Linked DNA regions of Homo sapiens: region 2 is linked to region 1. Evidence: fine-mapped expression QTL. Tissue or cell type: fibroblasts. Region 1 holds a variant in brackets; the other region holds the start of a gene. All regions are shown on one strand. Distances are from middle to middle. Region 1 has its middle 51 kb from the start of IPO5. Region 2 holds the start of IPO5 (importin 5).

Evidence for each region.
Region 2: it holds the start of IPO5, and the variant in region 1 is fine-mapped to the expression of IPO5 in fibroblasts (GTEx, PIP above 0.99). The same link has a PIP of 0.9 or more in nasal epithelium.

What each region holds. Positions count from the first base shown.
Region 1 is chr13:97,896,341-97,908,383 of GRCh38, forward strand. It overlaps the pseudogene RPL7AP61. Among named protein-coding and RNA genes, the nearest start is that of IPO5, 51 kb to the right of the region's middle. The variant A/G (reference allele first, on the strand shown) is at 6,745.
Region 2 is chr13:97,950,186-97,962,228 of GRCh38, forward strand. IPO5 (importin 5) reads left to right here and starts at 3,490. Exons shown (of 29, transcript NM_002271.6): 1 at 3,490-3,531; 2 at 3,934-4,013.

The DNA of each region.
Region 1 (12,043 bases):
ACTTTGCTGTACATGAGTCATACTTCAACTCAAAAAGCAGAAAATTTTTAATATTAGTATTAAGATTTTTAAAAATTCAAATCAGGCAAAAATTTAAGATAAAATCTGATTGACTTTCTTTCCTCTCTCTATTCCCTTGAAGTTTTTAGTTTGGAGAATTACCTGATGTACTCAGTGAGAATACATTTCTAAGACAAAAACAGTTAGATATTTTAAAAATATGATGCAAAGCATAATGCAGTTAAATCTATTTTTGGTGTCTGTTTTTCATTTTTGTTGTGTAACATTGAACAGTCTTTTCCTTTCCAGATCCCTCTGAGCTATAGTTTGGCCACTTATAAAAAGGTTGAGAATTTTCCCTGCCTCATTTGAGCCATAAGAATATATGAACAAAACCAAAAAGGTTGAGAATTTTCCCTGCCTCATTTGGGCCATAAGAATTTATGAACGAAACCCTGCCGGCACTTAAAAATATTGAACACTCTTAAATATTTTAAATGCTTCATATGGTATTCCACACGAGATGAGCCCATGCACTAGATGTATCTGTGGGACCCTTTATATTTAACCATATCCCTTTTCTTGCAAACATTTCTCCTTATTTAACTTCTGTCTTTTGAATGTATACTGTATTCTGAAACATAAATGCTTAAAATGAAGTTTCTAACAATTTATTCAAGTCACTGATACACCTTTAGTGGTTTCTTGAGCTTGAGCTTCACTCCTGGAATGAAATTTATGTTGAATGCTGTTTTCATCTGTTTGGAATGCTATAACAAAGTGCCATAAACTGAATGGCTTATAAACAACAAAAATTTATTTCTCACATATGGAGGTTGTGAAGTCCAAAGTCGAGGAACCAGTAGATTTTAAGCTTGGTGAAGGTCTGTTTCCTGGTTCATAGATGGTGTCTCCTGTCTGCATCTTCTCTTGGTGGAGGGGGCCCAGCTCTCTGGGGCCTCTTTTATAAAGGCAATAATCTCATTATAAAGGCTCTACCCTCGTGACCTAATCACCTCCCAAAAGTCCCACCTTCTAATACCATCATCTTGGGTGTTAGAACTTCAACATATGAATTCTCAGGGGTCTCAAACATTCAGACTATAGCAAATGGAGTTCCAAAGAGATACCTCAAATTTCAAATTGTAGATCATTATTATCTGTGCAGTTTATTTTTTATTGTATTGTATTTTCTACCTTTTTAATAAAAGCCATTTAACTGGGGTGAGATGGTATCTCATTGTAGCTTTGATCTGCATTTCCCTGATGATTAGTGATATTGAACATTTCTTCATATACCTTTTGGCCATTTGTATGTCTTCTTTTGAAAAATGTCTGTTTGGATCTTTTGCCCATTTTTACTTTAGATTATTTGGCATTTTTGCTATTGAGTTGTTTGAGTTCCTTCTATATTCTGGTTATTAATCCCTAGACAGATGAGTAGTTTCCAAATATTTTCTCCTATTCTGTGGTGTATTAGTCTGTTTTCACACCACTATAAAGATACTATCCAAGTCTGGGTAATTTATAAACAAAAGAGGTTTAATTGACTCACAGTTCCACATCGTTGGAGAGGTCTCAAGAAACTTACAATTATGGAGGAAGGAGAAGCTGGCACATCTTACGTGGCAGCAGGCAACAGAGACAGTGTGAGAGAGGAACTCTCAAACACAAAACCATCAGATCACGTGAGAACCGTCAAACACGTATAAAATCATCAGATCTAATGAGAACTGTCAAACACTTATAAAACCATCAGACCTCATGAGAACTCACTCACTAAACAGCATGGGGGAAATAGCCCCCATGATCCAATCGCCTCCCACCAGGTTCCTCCCTCAACACCTGGGGATTACAATTCAAGATCAGATTTGGGCAGGGACACAAAGCCAAACCATATCACGTGGGTTGTCTTTTTACTTTATTGTTTCCTTTGCCATACAGAAGTTTTTTAGCTTGATGTAATCCCATTTGTCTATTTTTGTTTGGTTGTCTCTGCTGTTGAGGTCTTGCACAAAGAATATTTTCCCAGACTAATGTCTGAGACCATTTCCTCAATGTTTTCTTCTAGTAGTTTCACAGATTCCTGTCTTAGATTTAAATATTTAACTCATTTTTGGGCTGGATGCAGTGGTTCACACCTGTAATCCTAGCACTTTGGGAGGCCAAGGTGGTAGGATCACTTGAGCCCAGGAGCTCAAGACCAGCCTGGACAACACAGTGAAACTCCATCTCTACTAAAATACAAAAAAAAATTAGCCAGGCGTGGCAGCGGGTGCCTGTAGTCCCAGCTACTCGGGAGGTTGAGGCAGGAGAATCACTTGAACCCTGGAGGCAGACGTTGCAGTGAGCCAAGATCACACCACTGCACTCCAGCCTGAGCAACAGAGCGAGACTCTGTCTCCAAAAAATAATAATAATAATAATAATAAAAAATATTTAACTCCTTTTCAATTGATTTTTTTATACAGTGAGATGAGGTCTAGTTTCATTATTCTGCATATGGAAATCCAGTTTTCCCAGCCCCACTTATTAAAGAGACTGTCCTTTCCCCCATTGTATATTCTGGGTACCTCTGTGAAAAATGAGTTGGCTATAAGTGTGTGGATTTATATCTGGGTTCTCTATTCTGTTACATTTGTCTATGTGTCAGATTTTATGCCAGTACTATGCTGATTTGGTTACTATAACTTGGTAGTATATTTTGAAGTCAGGTAGTATGATGTCTCTAGCTTTATTCTTTTTGCTCAGGGTTGTTTTGGCTATTCAAGGTCTTTTGTGGTTCCATATAAATTTTAGGACTCTTTTTTCTATTTCTGTGAAGAAGATCAGTGGTATTTTGATAGGGATTGCATTGAATCTGTAAATTTTATTGGGTAGAATTGTCATTTTAATAATATTAAGTCTTCCAATCCATGAGCATGGAATATATTCCCAGTTTTCATGTGTCCTCTTCAATTTCTTTCATCAATATTTGATCATTTTCCTTGTATAGATTTTTCATTTCTTTGGTTAATTTCATTGCTAGATATTGTGCAGTTTAGATAGCTTTATGGATTTGATAAGAAGTTTGTCTTGTTACCACGTCATTGTGTACTATGGACTTGCCCCTTCAGGGTCTGCCCAGAACGTTCTCAAGCCCAGGAATCCCTTTCAGAATCCAGCTCCACCATTCCAGGAAGGGGGAAGAGTGAGGAAGCCTCACTTCTGCAGATGTTCTCTGCCGATTTGGGGGTGGGTATGTGCATACTGACTGCAGTGACCTCACCCACAGATGGGCTAACCAAGCTATAACTGTTTATTAGAAACTAGAATGGTTCCATGAATATGTCATTCACCATTTCTTTAGTAAATTCAGTTTACATCATCATCTGCCTACAAGATAAAGAATACTTTATGCGTAGTATCAGCTCACTACAACCTCTGCCTCCTGGGTTCAAGCGATTCTCATGCCTTATCCTCCCTAGTAGCTGGGATTACAGTGACCAGTTTTCTTAATGAAGTATTTTTCCTACTGGGAAAAAGAAAACCAAGAAAGCTTTCCCTCCACAATTGGTGGGGAGGACGCTCATGTTCTGGCCTTTCTCCACTTTCCTACCTGGCATTCGTCATTCTTGGAACCTCCCGCCCCTTCTTCTGCGTCACTGCTGTTTCTGTGAGCATTATAAGCTTGCAGTTAATTCACCATATGACCTAAAGTCAGAATAATGACATATGGAATTTCAGGCTGATTTGCTGTACAAAGAGATCTAAGCATATGCCTCTTGAGAACAGGCATTGCTGTTACACAGCACCGTGAACACATCCATACTGGATTAATTTGGAATTTGCAAAGTTTAAAAAGAAACCTCTCAAGAACTATGACCATGATTATAAAAGTCAGACCACCAGACTATGATCTGTATCCAAGGAATGGTACTGAAGATTTTCAACCCCACTGAGCCTGTTATACGGATGGCTAACAGAGTCTGGGCTGAAGAAGAGATGTATACATTATCTTTTTTCTGTAGGTTTCTCAGACACCACCTGGGCAGCTGACCTATTTCACTGTCAGAAGCAATGACATGAGTCTCATATGTGATACTTTTCCAACAATTCTAAGCTTCAAAATAAACAATTTTGAAAACCTGCAGCTCAGCACTTGGCATTTCACCAGAACTTTCCCAACTCCCCAAAGCCAAATCTGTTTTTTTATTCTACCATGGAGTGCCTCGTTTATCTTTCCCAGGAGAAAATGTAAAAAAAAAAAACCACCTACAGAATTTGGTTTGGAGGGTATATAATGAACAGATAAAATGATCCTAGAACAGTAGTCCCTTAAAAAAGTTATATCAGGCCTAGATTCTTCTAGGAATATGTATATATAAATAATAATAATCTAGTATCCCAATTTTTATTCTCTTTGATCTCATTAGTAGATTTCTCAAATACCAGGTAAGAGAGAGCAACCCACATAAAATAGACAAACAAAAGACAGCATGTATTTTAGAATAATTACAGAGTTCCGAGTATAAATATCCTAGTGTTGCTAATATCATACTTTCTAATCAACAGAGGACATAAAGATTTAATGCTGTCTTTATAGCACATGAAAAATTTATTTTTGCTTACTGAGGAAAGAAGTATAAAAATTGATTTGATACAGTCCATTTTTAAAAAAAAAGATAAGTCTTTACTATGGAGGAAAATAAAACCTCAATGTTTGGTCATATTTACATATGTTGACTTCTAGAAGTACAGATTTAGACTGACCTTGAATGGCCAGATTTATTTCTGTAAGGCGAATCTGGAAAACTTCTCTACAAATGTAAACCATCAGGGAAACGGGTGGCATCAGGCCTGACAGGGGCTTGTTGATTTTAAATATGGCACATGTGTTATTTTAACCAAAATTTAAAATGCTATCAAAATGTTTTAAAATGTTCAAATCAAAGCTGAATTATTATTTCCAGGCTGAGCACAGTGGCTCATGCCTGTAATCCCAGCACTTTGGGAAGCTGAGGCAGACAAATCACCTGAGGTCAGTAGTTTGAGATCAGCCTGGCCAACATGGTGAAACCTCGTCCCTACTAAAAATACAAAAATTAGCCAGGTGCATGTCTGTAATCTCGGCTACTCAGGAGGCTGAGGCGGAGAACTGTTTGAACTCAGGAGGCAGAGATTTCAGTAAACAAAGATCGCACCACTGCACTCCAGCCCAGGCAACAGAGTGAGACTCTGTCTTAAAAAAAAAAGAAAAGAAAAAAGAAAAGAAATTATTATCATTCCCGGTTAGGCCTACAAAATGGGATGCAATAATCACCCCTGTCTGCTTGTCAAATGCAGCTGTTACATCCAGCTGTGGTGGCAAAGAGTCTTCCTTTATAAGTGTTTGAAAGCATCCCCTGAGATGAACCAGCTCACTCAGACATTGGCCAGTCAAACAGCTACTGAATTGCTTAAAGTGGCCAACTACATTCAGGCACAGAGCAAGAAAAGCAGAGAGCTGCCAGAAAAGGGGTATCCCCACTGAGACTGCCGGTCCTTTAAGCAGGTGTTTATAAAGTCACCACCTTGGTGGAGAACAACAAGGCTCACCTGGGGATGACTGCACATGTGTGGATTCCACTGAGCTGGTTGTTCTTCCTGCTGCCTTGGGCTCTAAAATGGGAGTCTCCTAGTTCATTATCAAGAGAAAAGCCAGACTGGTGGGATGTTTCCTCCACAGAAAGACCTGCACCACCATTGCCTTTACACAGGTTAACTCAGAAGACAAAGGAGTCCTAGCTAAGCTGGTGGAAACTACCAGGACCAATTACAATGACAGACATGACAAGATCTGCTATCATTGGGGATAACATTCTATCAAATTTATGGCTCTCATTGCTAAGCTCAAAAAGCAAGGCTAAAGAACTTGTCGCCAAACTGGGATAAAGGTTTAATGTTACCTTTACTGTACATAAAAATAAAAATTAACCTTCAAACATATTAATCTCATTAAAATACCTTTATTCTCCAAATTTGCATTGTACTATAGCCTAGAACGCACAGACTCATTTACTATTTACAGCTCGTGATCTCCCCAAGCCAATGAAATATTCTTTGTCCCTCTACCTTATATTTTAATTTCTTGGGTGCCTGTCCTTGCTCTCCTAATAGATAGACTGCAAGCTTATAGAAGAAAAGAAGTGTATGTTTCTTCTCCTTGGACTGACTTGATTTAGGTCTAAGATCGCTTTATTGTTGTTGCTTACATTCTTACAGCTCCCAGCACAGTTCTGCACACATGGAAACAGTACAGAGGCCAATGAGCGATGCACAATAGGGCCCCTGGGAACTCAACCGTGCACCCACATCTACAGCACATATCAGTCTCTCTGCTTCTGGGGATTATCTACACACTGCAAGTGGTAAATTGGTTAGTAGTTACCAATTCTGTCACAATCGAATGTTTGTGCTCCTCTAAAATTCATGTTGAAACTTAGTTTCCAATGTAATAATATTAAGATGTAGGGCCTTAAGGAGGTGATTTGCTCATAAGGGCATCTCCCTCTTGAATGGGATTAAGGCATTTATCAAAGAAGCTTCACCAGGATTCTGCCCTTTTTGCCCCTGCACCTTCTGCCATATGAGGACACAGTCACAAGGTGCCATCATGCAAGCAGACAGCACAGCCCCTACTAGACACCAAGTCTGCTGGCACCTTGATCTTGGACTTCCCAGCCTCCAGAACTGTAAGAAATAAATTTCTATTCTTTATGAATG[A/G]CCCAGCCTCTGGTATTTTGTTATAGCAGTGCAAATGGACAAACACATACAAAATACCAGAGCCTGGGTAATTTATAAAGAACAGAAATTTATAACTATGGATAAAAGTCAGTATAACACTAGCCCATGCTGTGGTAACAAATAGACACCCAAATCTCACTGGGGTGTCACAGCACAAGTCAACTTCCACTATTCACAAAATGTCTAGTGCAGGTAAAGAGCTCTCCAGGGATGTTTTTTTGATGTAATGACTAAAGATAGAGGCTGCTTCCGTTGTGTGGCTCCTCCATGTCAAAATGGTCACACAAAAGAAGAAGATGATGAAAAGCCTATGCCTGTTTTTAACTGTCTCAGTCCAAAAGTGACAAAAATTCATTTTTCTCATGGCCCATCAGCCTGATCTAGATACATGGCCCCAGTTCAACTATGAGTGAGATGAAGAACTAGGGGAGCCCATGGAATATTTAGTGAACATTACTGTCTCAAGCATACAACCAATTTTTTTTTTTTGAGACAGAATCTCACTCTGTCACCTAGGCTGGAGTGCAGTGGCTTGATCTCAGCTCACTACAACCTCCGCCTCCTAGGTTCAAGTAATTCTCCTTCCTCAGTCTCCCAAGTAGCTGGGATTACAGGTGCATGCCACCATATCTGGCTAAGTTTTGTATTTTTAGTAGAGACAGGGTTTCACCATGCTGGCCAGGCTGGTCTCGAACTCCTGACCTCAAGTAATCTGCCTACCTTGGCCTCTCAAAATGCTGGGATTATAGGCGTGAGCCACCATGCCTGGCCACAACCAAATTTTTTTAATGGAACCAGAGGACCAGTTACAGAATGCCACTTGTATAGTGATACAGCTATACCAACAAGGCACATAACAATATATTTTATTGTGTAAATTAATTAAGAGCTCCACATATTTATATTAAAATAAAATCCCTATTCATGCAATTGATCTTTATCATTTTCAAGGAAAGCAAGTCCTGTAAAGAAAGTGTGTTTTTATTTCGTACAAAGCAATGAGGTGTTATGACTTGGCTTTGGAAGAAAGTTCTTAAAATAATACATCAGGCTCATCTGTTGAGGCCGTCCCTTCTGCTGCAGCTTGCTATTGCCCAGTTTTCTATCTCTTATAATAGTAACCAGCTTTGAAGCCAAAATAAACTCTCTAGTTCTCTAGAACACCCCATCTGCCTCATCCTTCAACACCAGGAGTCCTTCCAAAGCTCTTAATGGCTGAGGCAATGCATACTATAAATTAATTGTCATGTGGCTTCATTCCATCAAGGCTAAAAAGATGTGCCCATTTCATCATTGTTGCAAGAATAAAGTTTTTAATTTCACACAGCAATCTTTCCCAGATCACTAGCTTAAAGACTATCTTTGGTATGGTAAATGAAATAGTCATTCCGCACGTGAAAAATAATCTGAGACTCTAAAAACATTCCATTGGGATCAAAATAATATCAAAAAAGAATGGTCACAAAAATGTTTTACCTCCATTAACAAAGGCATCTATTCTATTTGTTAGCACACAATCATAATTTCGTTATAGCCCTTTCTTTGTATCTCTAGGAAAATAATAAGAATTGCAAAGTGTAATTTTTGTAACTTATAAATAATGCTTTTACAAATTAGAATTCTGATAACCCCTTAAAGGTTATGACCCCCAAAACTTATAAAAATTACATTGGGCTGGGCACGGTGGCTCACACCTGCAATCCCAGCACTTTGGGAGGCTGAGGCAGGCAGATCACCTGAGGTCAAGAGTTTGAGACCAGCCTGCCCAACACAGTGAAACCCCGTCTCTACTAAAAATACAAAAATCAGCCGGGCATAGTGGTGGACGCCTGTAATCCCAACTATTCGGGAGGCCGAGGCAGGAGAATCACTTGAACCTGGGAGGCAGAAGTTGCAGTGAGTTGAGATCGCACCACTGAACTCCAGCCTGGGCAACAAGAGCAAAATTCTGTCTCAAAAAAAAAATTGCATTGACTTTCTCTCAAAACTAGAAAAGTTTTGAAGTATGAAGTTAAAAATATAATTGGAAGATGACATATAGTCAACTCTCCTTACTCTTATGAGTTCTCCCTAGAGATACAAATGGAACTTTGGTTCTTCTAGTATCTCTCCCATGTGTTACATCATGGCATCATATTCAAATCAAAGAACTAGAACTGGGAAGTGCCAGCAGCTAGCAATAGATACCAAAATAGCTTCTCTTTTTCAAATTTTTACAATCACTAACATTGAGAAATGGTTACCCAGTACAGAGTTAGGTGAAAACACGTACACACATATATAGACATTTATTTAATTACATGTATACCCTACCACAAATATCTATGTGGTCTCTTGTCTTTTTACTAGATTCACTACAGTATAACATAAGATACTTTGGGCTGTGAATTGGAGAAAAGAAAATCCTTATTGTCTTAAATGATGGGGAAATTAATTGACTCACATAATCATTGAAGTCTGTAGCAGTGTTTCTCAAAATATCTGTGGACAGTTGTTCTTGAATTGATTTAATTTTTCAATTCAGTGCAGATTGCTACATGGTTATAAAGCACAAGATTTGTACACAGTTTGCACAACTTACAACTCATCCATTTGTTGGACAACACCCCAACTAGTCTAGAGCCTATTTGGCTAGATAAGTGCATTGACCACACACTTGGAGGCGATTGCAATATCAAATCCCTACAAAAATTCCTAAGCATGTCTCTCAATTTCTATGTCTATGTCATCATAGAATGGTAACAAACAGTTCCCAGACACCCTACATTTTGAGTGGCCCTGGTCTAGAGATAGGTTGGGCATTCACAAGGTTCTTGTTCCATCTCCCTGGCATTTTTTAAGTTTTCCTCCTTTGTGTGCCAGCTGCCTCCTCGGGCTGGAAGGAAGATGTGTGCAATGGTCCCAGTCTTAATATGTGACAACATCCAGAAGAGATAGGTCACTTCAAAGCAACAGCAAAAGAGCAAAGAAAACCTCTCCTGGGAGGCTCTAGCAAACTTTCTGCACATCTCATTGTCCTTAATTGGATCACGTGTCTATTCCCGAACTTATGACAGGCAAGAAAAAGGGGATTACTCTTGGAGCAATTGGGCCCCCTCCTGGAGCTAGGGGTGGGAATCCATCCTTGGGGCATGTGAGTTGCATAATAGAGAGTAGAGAGTGTGTTGCATTAAACATAAAATTGGGTTTATGTGGTAAACGTGGGAAGGAGGAATGGATGATAGGGAGACAATCAACAATGTTGGAAGTATTTTAACTAGGCTTTTGTATAATTATTAGTCAATCAAAGGATATTATTAAGTAGTCATTAATTTAGTAGCTTTGTATCGAACTTGGGCACACAGAAAGCCTGACTTACCCTAACATTTCCAGCACCTGAGGAAAGAATCCTATCGACCCTATGTTCTCCAATCATTGTGACCAAGAGAAAAGGATTTCACAGAACAATTCTGGCTGCTTAAGAGAGGAATTGGCAGGGTATCCTTATGGATTTGAGAGTGAGCAGTTACTAGGGAGGGGGAGGTCATGTGAACTGGGCAGATGCTTCAGAAAATGTCCCCACAATCATTTAAAAATTAACTCCATAACTCTCTCCTCCTTAAGTGTGAGTTTTGCACAGTGACCTCCTTTCAAAGAGTACAATGTGGAAGGGAGGGGAGAAACTTGATAGTGGAGAAATCTCACAAACAGCACTACAGCCAGGTGGTCAAATTCAAAATCAACAGTGATAGATCACGTTGATAGTATGTACCCTTGATGTGATATGATGACAATGGTACTTAGCATCTGTGGCCTTCCTCCCAATAACCCATTACCTCAGTCTAATCATGAAAATATCAGACATCCATGTGTGGGCAGGAAATGAAATAAAATATTTAAAAACTAAAAAATAAAATAACAAAAAAGAAAACATCAAACAAATCCCAGCTGATGGACGTTCTACAAAGTAACTGACCAATAATTCTCACAACTGTCAAGGTCATAAAAAAAGTCTGAAAAACTGTCACAATGAAGAGCACCCAAGGAAACGTGACAAATAAATGTAATGTAGTGTCCTGGATGTGTTCCTGAAAGATAAAAAGATAATTAGATAAAGACTAAAGGCACCTGAATTAAGTATGGGCTTCAGTTAATAATAATTTATCAATATTGGTTAATTAATTGTAGCTAATGTACCCTACAAATGTAAGATGTTAATAATGGGGAGATGGGAACTCTGTACTGTGGGCTTAAATTTTCTGTAAATCTAAACATACTCTAAAAAACAAAGTCTACAGCCTGGGCAACATGGCAAAACCCTGTCTCCACAAAAAATACAAAAGGCCAGGTGTGGTGGCACACACCTGTAGTTCCAGTGACTTGGGGGACTGAGATGGGAGAATCGTTTGAGACTAGGAGGTCAAGGCTGCAGTGAGCCGTGATCATGCCACTGCATTCCAGCCTGGACAACAGAGAAAGACCCTGTCTCAAAACAAAGTCTATTCATTTTTCTAAATTGCATGCTACTAAATAGGTGTTTAAAATTATTTTTTGATGGGTATAGAGTTTCAGTTTCAGATGAAGAAAAAGGTCTGGAGATGGATGGTGATGATGGTTGCATGACAATGTGAATGTAAGTAATGCTATAGAGCTAGTACACTAAAAATGGTTAAAATGGTAAATTAAGTATATTTTACCAAAATTTAAATGTATCTTAATAAAGTATACAATTATATTGGTGTTACTACCCAGTTTAATGACAGGTTTCATAGGTATGTGTTCTCTGTTCCGAAGGAATTCCAATATGTTGAGCATGAATATCAATGTAGAGTCCAACTATAAGTCAAAATCTCAGTAAGTTTTGGTTAGTGAAGGTGATATGATTTGGCTCTCTGTCCCCACCCAAATCTCATGTTGAATTGTAATTCCCAATGTTGAGGGAGGGACCTGGTGGGAGGTGATGGGATCATGGAGGCAGATTTCCCCCTTGCTGTTCTTGTGATAATGAGAGAGTTCTCACGAGATCTGATGGTTGAAGAGTGTGTGGCATTTCCCTCTCTCCTGTGCTCCCATGGTTTGATGTGCTTGGTTCCCCTTTGCCTTCTACCATGATTGTAAGTTTCCGGAGGCCTCCCAGTCATGCTTCCTGTTAAGCCTGCCCAACTGTGAGTTAATTAAACCTCTTTTCTTCATAAATTCCCCAGTCTCCGGTAGTTCTCTATAGCATTGTGAGAACAGACTAAAGCAGAAGGATGGGGAAACTTTCCAGAAAAGGTGTAACTTAAAATCCTTCTAGAAG
Region 2 (12,043 bases), 54 kb after region 1:
GCTTGAACCCTGGAGGAGGAGGTTGCAGTTAGCTGAGATCACACCACTGCACTCCAGCCTGGGCGACAGAGCAAGACTTTGTCTCAGGAAAAAAAAAAAAAAAAAGTATCCCTGCACAAGCTCTCTTCTCCTGTCTGCCGCCATGTGAGATGTGCCTTTCACCTTCCGCCATGTTTGTGAGGCCTCCCCAGCCATGTGGAATCATAAGCCCAACAAACCTCTTCCTTTTGTAAGTTGCCCAGTCTTGGGTATGTCTTTATCATCACTGTGAAAACGGACTAATAAAGCCACAATGCAAAATATCCACCATAGTGCTCTCTATATGTGACTTTCTAGCCTACCCTTATCCACCATGGTGATTCCTATTCAGTATTCCACTGGTTGTGCCTGCTGATGAAGAAATCAATGTATATTCCCCTAAATCCTGTCTTTGGTGTAGGTTTGGAATGCCCAAGGATCAGCCAGTGCAGTCAGGTCTGCTGGCACCTTCCAAAAAACCAAGTGATATGGTTTGCCTGTGTCCCCACCCAAATTTCATCTTGAATTGTAGCTCCCATAATTCCCGTGTGTTGTGAAAGGGACCCGGTAGGAGATATTTGAACCATGGGGGCAGTTTCCCTCATACTGTTCTTGTGGTAGTGAATAAGCCTCACGAGATCTGACGATTTTATAAGAGGTTTCTCCTTTCACTTGGTTCTCATTCTCTCTTGCCTGCCACCATGTAAGATGTATCTTTTGCTTTCCACCATGACTATGAGGCCTCCCCAGCCACATGGAACTGTGAGTCCATTAAACCTCTTTTTCTTTATAAATTACCCAGTCTCAGGTATGTCTTTTTTTTTTTCTTTTTTTTTTTTGAGACCAAGTCTTGCTCTGTCACCCAGGCTGGAGTACAGTGGCACAATCTCGGCTCACTGCAACCTCCACCTCCTGGGTTCAGTGATTCTCCTGCCTCAGCCTCCCAAGTAGCTGGGACTACAGGCACCCACGACCATGCCCAGCTAATTTTTCTATTTTTAGTAGAGACAGGGTTTTGCCATGTTGGCCAGGGTGGTCTCGAACTCCTGACCTCAGCCTCCCAAAGTGCTAGGATTAGAGGCATGAGCCACTGTGCCCAGCCACGGTCTTTATCAGCAGCATGAAAACAGACTAATACACCAAGCAACTGGTCAATGTCATAGGCACTGGAGAAACTTCTCGGATTTGTTCTTTTAAAATGTTCTTCAGGAAGGGCACAATGGCTCACCCCTGTAATCCCAGCACTTTGGGAGGCCAAGGTGCTCCCAGCTCACTTGAGGCCAGGAGTTCAAGATCAGCCTAGGCAACACAGTGAGACCCTCCCCCAACGTCTACAAACATTTTTTTAGAACATTAACCAAGTATGGTGGGGCATGCAGTGAGCCATGATTGCATCACTGGACTCCAGGGTGGGTAACAGTGCAAGACTGTCTCTAAAAAAAGAACTAAAAAATAAACAAATACGTAACTAAATAAAATGTTCTTCATACATTTTGCAGTAACCTTGTAACCATTCAATCGCTGATTCTGAATCTATGTAAATTCTGGTATCAGACCCTTGGTAAGATGCTTGAGCAAAATGCCATGAAGACACCTGCCCACAAGCCAAAATGTTAGAAGTCAGGTGCAGTAGCGAGCTCCTGCAGTCCCAACCACTTGGGAGGCTGAGGCAGGAGGATCTCTTGAGCCCATAGTTCGAGACCAGCCTGGGTAACATAATGAGACCCCTGTCTCAAAAACAAAAAAAGAACCAGTGACATAGGATGAGGACGAAGAAGCAAGGAATAGTGCTGAAGAACTTTCAGGATATGCGGGGTGACACTAGAAAGTGCTTAGACATCACACGTTACCAAGAAAAAAATGTGACCTATACAAAGGAGTCTGCCCATGTCCTATGAAACAATTTAAAAATCAAAAATAGGCCGGGTGCGTTGGCTCATGCCTGTAATCCCAGCACTTTGGGAGGCCAAGGTGGGCAGATTACGAAGTCAGGAGATCGAGACCATCCTGGCTAACATGGTGAAACCCCGTCTCTACTAAAAATATAAAAATTAGCCGAGCATGGTGGCGCGTGCCTGTAATCCCAGCTACTTGGGAGGCTGAGGCAGAAGAATCGCTTGAACCAGAGAGGCAGAGGTTGCAGTGAGCTGAGATCACACCAGCCTGGGCAACAGAGAGAGACTCTGTATCAAAAAAAAAAGAAATAAATAATTACAAAAATGGAGTTTGGCTTTAATTAATGATCTGAATTAATAAAAACAACAAAATGCTAGGCCAGCGCAGGGGATCATGCCTGTAATCCCAGCACTTTGAGAGGCCGAGGCAGATGGATCACTTGAGGTCAGGAGTTCAAGACCAGCCTGGCCAACGTGGTGAAACCCCATCTGTACTAAAATACAAAAATTATTCGGGCATGGTGGTGGGCACCTGTAATCCCAGCTACTTGGGAGGCTGAGGCAGGAGAATTTCTTGAACCCGGGAGGTGGAGGTTGCAGTGAGCCGAGATCACGCCACTGCACTCCAGCCTGGGCAACAGAGTGAGAATCTGTCTCAAAAAAAAAAGAAAAGCTAAATGTACAAAGCTAGGGCATTGAGATCCATGAGAATACAGGGCAAAATTGATGTTAATCTGTCATATAAAAATTTAATTACATCCCATAAATATCTGCAATTTTTTATTGTTTATTTTTTGAGACAAGGTCTCACTCTGTTGCCCAGGCTGGAGTGCAGTGGTGCAATCACAGCTCACTGCAGCTTCAACCTCCCCCGGCTCAGATGATCCTCCCACTTCAGCTTCCTGAGCAGCTGGGACTACAGGTGTGCACTGCCACACGCATCTAATATTTGCATTTTTCATAGAGATGGGGTTTTGCCATGTTGCCAAGACTGGTCTTGAACTCCTGAGCTCAAATGATCCTCCCACCTCGGCCTCCCAAAGTGCTGGAATTACAGGCATGAGCCACCCCGCCCAGCCAATATTTATAATTATTACATGTCAACTAAAATAAAAGAAAAAGTAATTTAATCACAAACCCAGTTGACATAAACGTATGTAATATGGAATTTCCTGTTGTTTCCATACAAATTTATCTTTGTCTATTTGAGAGATCAATTTCTCTTTTCAGTATTGAGTAGTGAATAGAATCAAAATCTGTGGGTAAAGAAGCTACTCAGACAGTTTCAAAACTGAATTTGATGACACATTTGTACCCAATCTGAGTGGCCCCCAGCAACATGGGTTTTGAGTTCTCAAAGGCCAATAGATAGCTCCCTTTCCTTTCCACAGCTTTGGGAGCTTGGGCTACCCTGTAACGTCTAAATGCCTGTGCAGTGTGGGCCTGTGAAGCTGGCAGGGTGGGCAGTGTAAATGCCCACTAGCAGGAGCCAGCTGACCTCCTGCGTGTCACAATAGCAGCCAGGTGTCTCCACGGTGACGTCTCTGAGCCAGGAGGTCAGAACTGTGGGATTGATGACCTCCCACAACTGGAGCAGCCGGGAACAGCTCTGACCACAGTAAGTCATCCCAAAACCTCACATTCAGATGAAACCATTTAAGAATTTCATCTGCACTGAGGAACAATTTAGCGTGATACTGGAGGGAAAGAGTTTCCCTGTGAGATCCAGGAGGTCCCTTTAGCTCGTCTCCTGACGTCACCACAGTCATACCCAAGAGGAAGGAAACGTCAGAGACAATGATTTGGAGAACATTCTACACAAAAACCAAGTATGAAACAATGACGATTTCATGATGGCTCATTGTTCTTTGGTATTGTGCCTTACGTGAGCTGGGGACTAACTCTGTATCCTTAAGGAGGCATCACTTGATTAGAGTTGCCCAAAAGAATGTGGGTTATTATCCTAAAGGTCTGTGTTGCCATCCTGAAACAGTCAGAAATCAGTTTTTATTTCACTTAGGTGGTTCCGGGGAGAAGCCTTTCCAGGACCCATGTGTAGGCACAACTGTTTTCCCTGATCAGGATACTTGCGGCACTCAAGTGAGTCTAGAATTATCAGATTTTGTTCTGTCTCTCTTCACTGTGAATTCTATTCTTTATTTCCTTTAAAACAAAAAGCTCCTGCTATTTTCTCCTATAATTATGATATCTGTTTCTTGATCATTTTACCTTCTATTCACCAATTAATTGAAATCCAACCCATCAGGATTATCTACCCTGCTTTCCTATAGGGAGAATAAAAAGTGCTTAGAAGCAGTATGATTTTCACTGCCTTTAATTTCTCAAATCCCAAGATGTTCCATTTAAAATCTTTAGAGTATCTATTTTGTCTTCTGTACATTATGGTTGTATTCCCTCAGAGGCCGAGTATATTTTATCTTAGTTTTCAGAGATCACTAAAGTCAAGTAAATGAAGGAAAACAGAATTCATTTTCATTATGGGAAAACAAAATCAATCCCTAAGTAGTCAAAAGATTACTTACTTAAGGAACCACCTGGTTAACTTCTTCTCCTAGAACTTAATCCCCTAACTAGGGGTAAAAAAGGCTCATTGTCATCTTATAAAGTATTAGATACCAGGGACTTGTCAAATGCTAATGCCTTTATTATAGAATGTTTAATTTAGACCTTCCTAAACAGTTTTGCTTTCTTCCGTCATTTGTCTGTGATGGAACCTCAAAGACACTAACTAGTATGCGAGACAGATTTGTGTTGGAACATTGTGTTAGCTTTCCAGTAGAGTTAAAACTCTGGAATGCAATTATAAACCTCCAAATGAAAAATACCGGCCGGGCACAGTGGCTCACACCTATAATCCCAGCACTTTGGGAGGCTGAGGTGGGAGGATCACTTGGGCCTAGGAGTTTAAGGTCAGCCTAGGCAACATAGTGAGACCCTGTCTCTACAAAATATAGAAAAAAGTAGCCAGTTATGGCAGAATGCATCTGTAATTCCAGGGACTCAGGAGGCTGAGGTGAGAGGATTCCTTGAGCTGGGGAGGTCAAGACTGCAGTGAGCCATGACTGTGCCACTGCACTCCAGCCTGGGTGACAGAGTGGGACCCTATCACGAAAAAAAAAAAAGAAAAATACCTAAGTGGCCAAATACCTTATAAAGTTCATGCATGCTACTCTACAGGAAATATCCTCAGCTGTCTTCTCTGTGCTGAGTTCATATACTCTTGTGCCTAGTTCATACATGCTTGGTCATCTGCCTTCCAAAGCACACAGCAAACCAGATGATGAGAGCAGCTGACAAGTGGAGACAGTTGTCATTTTATGTTGGCAGCTACAATAAATGACACTGTCTGATGGAGAAAATGAGCGGGGAAAACACTTCCAAAACACAGGCAGAAATATAAGAGTTGAAATCCCAGAGTTCCAGAACAATTTCACCTCAGGGCAAGCAAGCCTAAGTGGCCTGTGTATCCACCACTCTACCACAACCCAGTGACATAACCGACTTGATGGTCCTCAGACGCCGGAGCTGGGAGGATCCCCTAGGGTGCTGCCCAACTCGCCCCAATTTACAGATGAGGAAATGGAGGCCTCAGGAAGCATTGACAGCCCAGTTCAGGATCACAGCTAGTTAAGGGGGAAGCTGCAACTACAGTCAGGATCCCCTCATCCCAAGGGCCAACTTCTATCCTATACGCCCCACTCTGGAAAGGTGAAAAATAATTCAGCATTTTGGCCAGGCGCAGTGGCTCATGCCTGTAATCCCAGCACTTTGGGAGGCCAAGGCAGGCGGATCACAAGGTCAGGAGACCAAGACCTTCCTGGCTTAACACGGTGAAACCCCGTCTCTACTAAAAATACAAAAAATTAGCCGGGCGTGGTGGCGGGCACCTGTGGTCCCAGCTACTCTGGAGGCTGAGGCGAGACAATGGCGTGAACCCGGGAGGTGGAGCTTGCAGTGAGCCAAGATCGCGCCACTGCACTCCAGCCTGGGCGACAGTGCGAGACTCCGTGTCAAAAAAAAAAAAACGAACAAAAAAAGTAAAAAATAAAAATAATAATAATTCAGTGTTTCAAAAGGTTTCAAAAGGCCAGTAAGGAATTAATACATGTTTAAAGAATTTTCTTGACAAAATGGTTGAAGGCTCATTGGTTACATTTGAGAATTAAATAAGATAAAGCATAGAAGGTTATCCCTCAAACACAGAAAGAAATCAAAATGTTGTCAGTTATTATTATAACTTAAAAATCTGATATATAAAAAAGTGCTTTTTTACAGAAGTCAGAAGAAAGTAGGTTGAGCATTTTTAATACTAATCTTTTAAATACCTTTGCTCTGCCAGAAAATTAATTTTCATAAAGCAATACATTGTTGGATCTCACCCTTAGGAAGGTCTTCCCTGGGCACCCTATTTTAACAGTACCCCATCACCTCTAGCTCTTTACTTTGATTTCGTATGCTTTATAACCTATTACCATATGAAACTAAAGATATGTATAAAATCTTTTCTCTAAAGCTTCTCCTAAAGTTCACAGCTAAAATACTATGATTTTCTTCTGGTTTTTAAATAGTCCTCTTGTTAGAAAAGATTTAGCCCTTATCCTCAATCTCACAGCCACTAAATAGTCAATTCACACAAGCCAAGTGATTTGTAAAATAGGAGTCTCTGCAAACTGAGTCCAACCAGCTTGAATAATAGCATCATAACATAATGGGATCCCTTTCTGGTGGTAGTGTCCGGGACCAAATACCAAAATTCCTATTTTAAGCTGTATTAAGATTTTCTAAATGTAGCTATGTTTCAAGAGAAAATGCTTGGTCTATGGATAGCTGAAGCCATGTAAAACAAGCATTCTTATCACATGGGTCCAATATCGCTGATTTTACATGGCAGATAGACCTTAAAACGCATTCCTACTTTTCCCACTCCCTCCCACATTCTTTAAAAGGGTAGGGTTTATTATCTCTCTGAATACTCAAATGAAAACTTAAGTGTATAAACAAAACTAGAAAAATCCTTAGATTAAGATGGGAGGAAGATGGTCTTTTGACCTCTTAATATTAGTTTGATCTAACATCTTTTTTTTTTTCTATTTTTTGAGACTGAGTCTCATTTTGTTGCCCAGGCTGGAGTGCAGTGGCGTGATCTCAGCTCACTGCAGCCTCCACCTCCCAGGTTCAAGCGATTCTCCCACCTCAGCCTCCTGAGTAGCTGGGACTACAGGCCTGCGCCACCATACCTGGCTAATTTTTTTTTTGTATTTTTTGTAGAGACAAGGTTTCACCATGTTGGCCAGGCTGGTCTCGAACTCCGACCTCAGGTGATCCACCTACCTCCCAAAGTCCTGGGATTACAGGCATGAGCCACCGCACTCAGCCTGATCTAAGTTCTTTAAATGATCATTCCATATTGTTAAACAATGTTTCTAAGTGAGAGGTAGAGAATTATATTAGTTGGTAGGAGGCCTAAATGCTTGAAGACAATTTAGAGAAAACTAGTTATTTCCTTGGCACAAAGTAAATCCTACTACTCCTGAAGTATAAGAAAAAATAAAAATAAAAACAATAAAAATAAACAATTCTTTGATCAAATAATTTTTTTAATTGACTTGTTCTGATCATTAGGGCCTACTTGTTCAGCCCACTATCCTTACATGCATTAGTGGATTCCTTCTCTTTTTTATCTCTGAAGATTTCAGAAGTAGATCAGTGGATTCCTTAAATGTTAAAGAAACCCTGTCTTCTGTAATCCCAGCTACTCTAGAGGCCGAGACAGCAGAATCGCTTGAACCCATGAGGTGGAGATTGCAGTGAGCCGAGATCGCACCACTGCACTCCAGCCTGGGTGACAGAGTGAGACAGAATGAGACTCTGTCTCAGAAAAAAAAGTAAAGAAAGAAACCCTTGCAATCAGAAAGAAAAAGAGAATTACAACTTAAAGTGACTAATGTTAAATATACTATTATATTTGGACTATATATAAACTAGAAACCTCCAGGGCCTGGCCTCAGGTGGAGTTGTCTTGCAGCTGATTGCTTGGCTCTCTTCTCTCTTCCCAACCTGATGTCATCCACTTCCACAACTTTAAATGCCATGAAAGTGATGGCTTGCCATTTCCAGCCCTGCCCTCTTCCTGGGCTCCATTGTCCCTCTATCCTCAGCCACGTGGCTGTTTCCTGTGTCCCACAAAAGTGCCACGAAGGAAACCCAGCTCTTCTCTCCAGACCTTACCCCAAACACCTCCTTCTCATCTTAATAGCATCATCAGTTGCTCAGTCACAAAACCTGGGCATTCTTGATCTCTCCCGACCTCACCCCCACCATCGGGAGAGGACTCATCAAGAAATTCCAGAAGCTTAAGTGTCAGGGACTCTCCTTTGCTCAGGACCCTCTATCTCATTTTGTGTTACCCCATTGCAGGGTCCTCTATCTCATTTTGTGTTTAGTTTTTATTTTTCTTATGGAAGGCCCTCAAACTGTATGATTTAGGCCTCACAAACCTTGGATCGGCCTCTGCACCCTCTGTCCAGCTCATTTCCAAAAGAAAACTATCTCAAAAAAAAAAAAGAAAGAAAGAGAAAAGAAAACCATCTAAAACCGACCACACAACAGTGAACACTGTTGATTGCTACCACCTCAGTCCAAGCCCCATCCCACCCCACCCCACACTGCAGCCAAGATGATCTTTGAAAGTTGAAAGCTTCTCAGGTCAGATCTCTTTCTTAACCCTCCACTAGATTCCCCTTTCCCCTAGGACAAGTCACACTACAAGAGGCAGGACACGGTGGCTCACACCTGTAACCCCAGCACTTTGGGAGGCTGAGGCAGGTAGATCACCTGAGGTCAGGAGTTCAAGACCAGCCTGGCCAACATGGTGAAACCTCGTCTCTACTAAAAATACAAAAATTAGCCAGACGTGGTGGCGGGCACCTGTAATCCCAGCTACTCGGGAGGCTGAGGCAAGAGAATTGCTTGAACCTAGGAGGCAGAGGTTGAAGTGAACTAAGATCACGCCACTGCACTCCAGCCTGGGTGACACAGCAAGACTGTGTCTCAAAAAAAAAAAAAGAGAGAGAACAAGTCACACTACAGAACCATCACAATGCCCTAGTAGCAGAACATGCTGCTGAACTATCAGGGTGCCCTGGGTGATCTGGCCTCTGCTGGCCTCTCAACCCTCTCAGCTTTAGCTATCCCCTTCTTTCCTTTCTGGAATACCCCAACTTGTTTTTGCCTCTGTCCTTCGTATTGTCACCTCTGCTTGAGAGAGCCTCCTCCATTTCTTTATTTGCCTCATCTTTCATTGTCACCTCCTCTCAAAAGACTGTCCCGGCAGGGCACGGTGGCTCACGCCTATAATCCCAGCACTTTGGGAGGCCGAGGCGGGTGGGTCACAAAGTCAGAAGTTCAAGACCAGCCTGGCCAACATGGTGAAACCCCGTCTCTACTAAAATACAAAAAACAAAAATTAACCGGGTGTGGTGGCGGGCGCCTATAGTCCCAGCTACTTAGGAGGCTGAGCCAGGAGAATTGCTTGAACCCGGGAGGCGTAGGTTGCAGTGAGCCTAGATAGCGCCACTGCACTCCAGCCGGGGTGACGGACTGGGACTCTGTCTCAAAGAAAAGAAAGACTGTGTCCCTAGGGTATGACCCCACTCCAAATCCAGTCATTCGTGATCCCATTATCTTCTTTTTTCACCTATAACTGTATGCAAGTATCTTATCAGTTTACTTGTTTATTATCTGAATTCTTTCAAAAGAGCTAAGCTCCCTGAAGGTGGGAACCCTGTCCGCATGCTCACCGTGGAATCCCCACAGCCTAGCAGCACCTCCCACAGAGGGGTGCCTAATATTTTTCTAAACAAATGAATGAAGAAAATGTTCATTAAACAAATACTACTGCAGTTAAATGTGGCATCAAGCAGTACTACACATAGGATGCATGGAATTGAAGCCTATGAACCATTATAAGGTCCCTTTCATTTGTTCCTCATTAACTGTGGATGACTAAAAATCCATGCTGCCAATAGCTCCAACTATGAGATGCAGATCGATGTCACAATTCAGACTCCATTATGTATGTCCTCACAATGCAGGAGGTGAAATGTGTATGTCATGTGTCCAAATTGTAAGATACTTGCTGTAAGTAGCAAAAAGATGGGAAGGAAAGTCTACAGACCAAATCATATCTGAATCTCCCCATTCTCCCTCTCCACAAATATTGGTTTAGGAATTCTCCGAAGTTTGAAGGTTATGAATGGTTATCACTCAAGGATTCAGAACTAAGGTAAAAATACTGTGAATGATAGGGGGAAAAAATCACTAATTGAGGTCTAAATCAATATCCTTCAGCTCTCTAAGGAAATGTATTTTTAATATAATAGCTTTATTGAGACATTCATACACCATAAAGTCCAAATTTTACTTTTTATTTTATTTATTTGGTTTTTTTTTTTTTTGAGATGGAGTTTCACCCTTGTCACCCAGGCTGGAGTGCAATGGCATGATCTCGGCTCACTGCAACCTCCACCTCCTGGGTTCAAGCAATTCTCCTGCCTCAGCCTCTTGAGTAGCTGGGATTACAGTCGCGCACCACTACGCCCAGCTAACTTTTGTACTTTCAGTAGAGACAGCGTTTCACCATGTTGGTCAAGCTGGTCTCGAACTCCTGACCTCAGGTGATCCACTCGCCTGAGCCTCCCAAAGTGCTGGGATTACAGGCATGAGCCACCTCACCCAGCCTAAAGTTCAACCTTCTAAAGTGTACAATGGAGTGTTTAGTATATTCAGTGGGCTGCACATTCATCACTATCACCCTTTCCTCACCCTAAAAGAAAACTCCATACCTGCTAGCACTCACTGATTCCCCTACCCACCCCATGCCCAGGCACATGGCAAGCACCAATCTACTGTCTATGGATGTGCTGATTCTGGACATTTCCCATAAGTGGGACCAAAAAAATGTGTGGTCTTTTTGTCTGATTTCCTTCAGGCAGTCTAATGAGTTTAAGGTTCACTCATGTTGTTACATGTATCATTACTTTATTCTTTTATTGCGAAGTAATATTTCCTTGTATAGTTAGAAGACATTTTGTTTATCCATTCACCAGTGGATGGACAGTTGAATTGTTTCCACTTTTTGGCTGTGGTGAATAATGTTGCCATGAACATTCATGTACAAGTTTTTGTGTCAACATATGTTGTCTTTTCTCTTGCACATATACCTAGGAGTGAAATTACTGAGTCAAATGGTAACTCAGGCTGGAGTGCAATGGCACGATCTCGGCTCAACGCAACCTCTGCCTCCCAGGTTCAAGTGATTCTCATGCCTCAGCCTCTCGAGTAACTGGAATTACAGGCATGCGTCACCACACCCAGCTTATTCAGACTGTTTTCCAAATTGGCTGTAACATTTTATGTTCCTATTAGCAAAGTATGAGCGTTTGAATTTCTCCACATTCTTGTCAACACTTGCTGTTGCCTTTTTTATTAAAGCCATTTTATTGGGTATGAAGTGGTAACTTACATTGTGGTTTTGATTTGCATTTCTCTAATGATGAATGATGTTGCACATCTTTTCATGTGCTTATTGGCCATTTGTATATTTTCTCTGGAGAAATGTCTATTCAAATGTTTTACCCATTTTTTTAATTGGGTTGTCTTTTTTTAATTGAGAGTAGGGCTTTTTAAATATTCTGGATATAAGTCCCTTATAAGACATATGATTTGTGGCCAGGCGCAGTGGCTCACACCTGTAATCCCAGCACTTTGGGAGACCAAAGTGAGTGGATCACTTGAGGTCAGGAGTTCAAGACCAGCCTGGCCAACACGGCAAAACCCCATCTCTACTAAAAATACAAAAATTAGCTGGGCGTGGGGGCGCACACCTGTAATCCCAGCTAATCTGGAGGCTGAGGCAGGAGAATCACTTGAACCTGGGAGGCAGAGCCTGCAGTGAGCTGAGATCATGCCAATGCATTCCAGCCTGGGTGACAGAGTGAGACTTTGTCTCAAAAAATATACATTATTTGCATATATTTTCTCCCATTCTATGAGTTGTCTTTTCTCTTTCTTGATGGTGTCCTTAAAAGCACAAAGGTTTTAATTTTGTG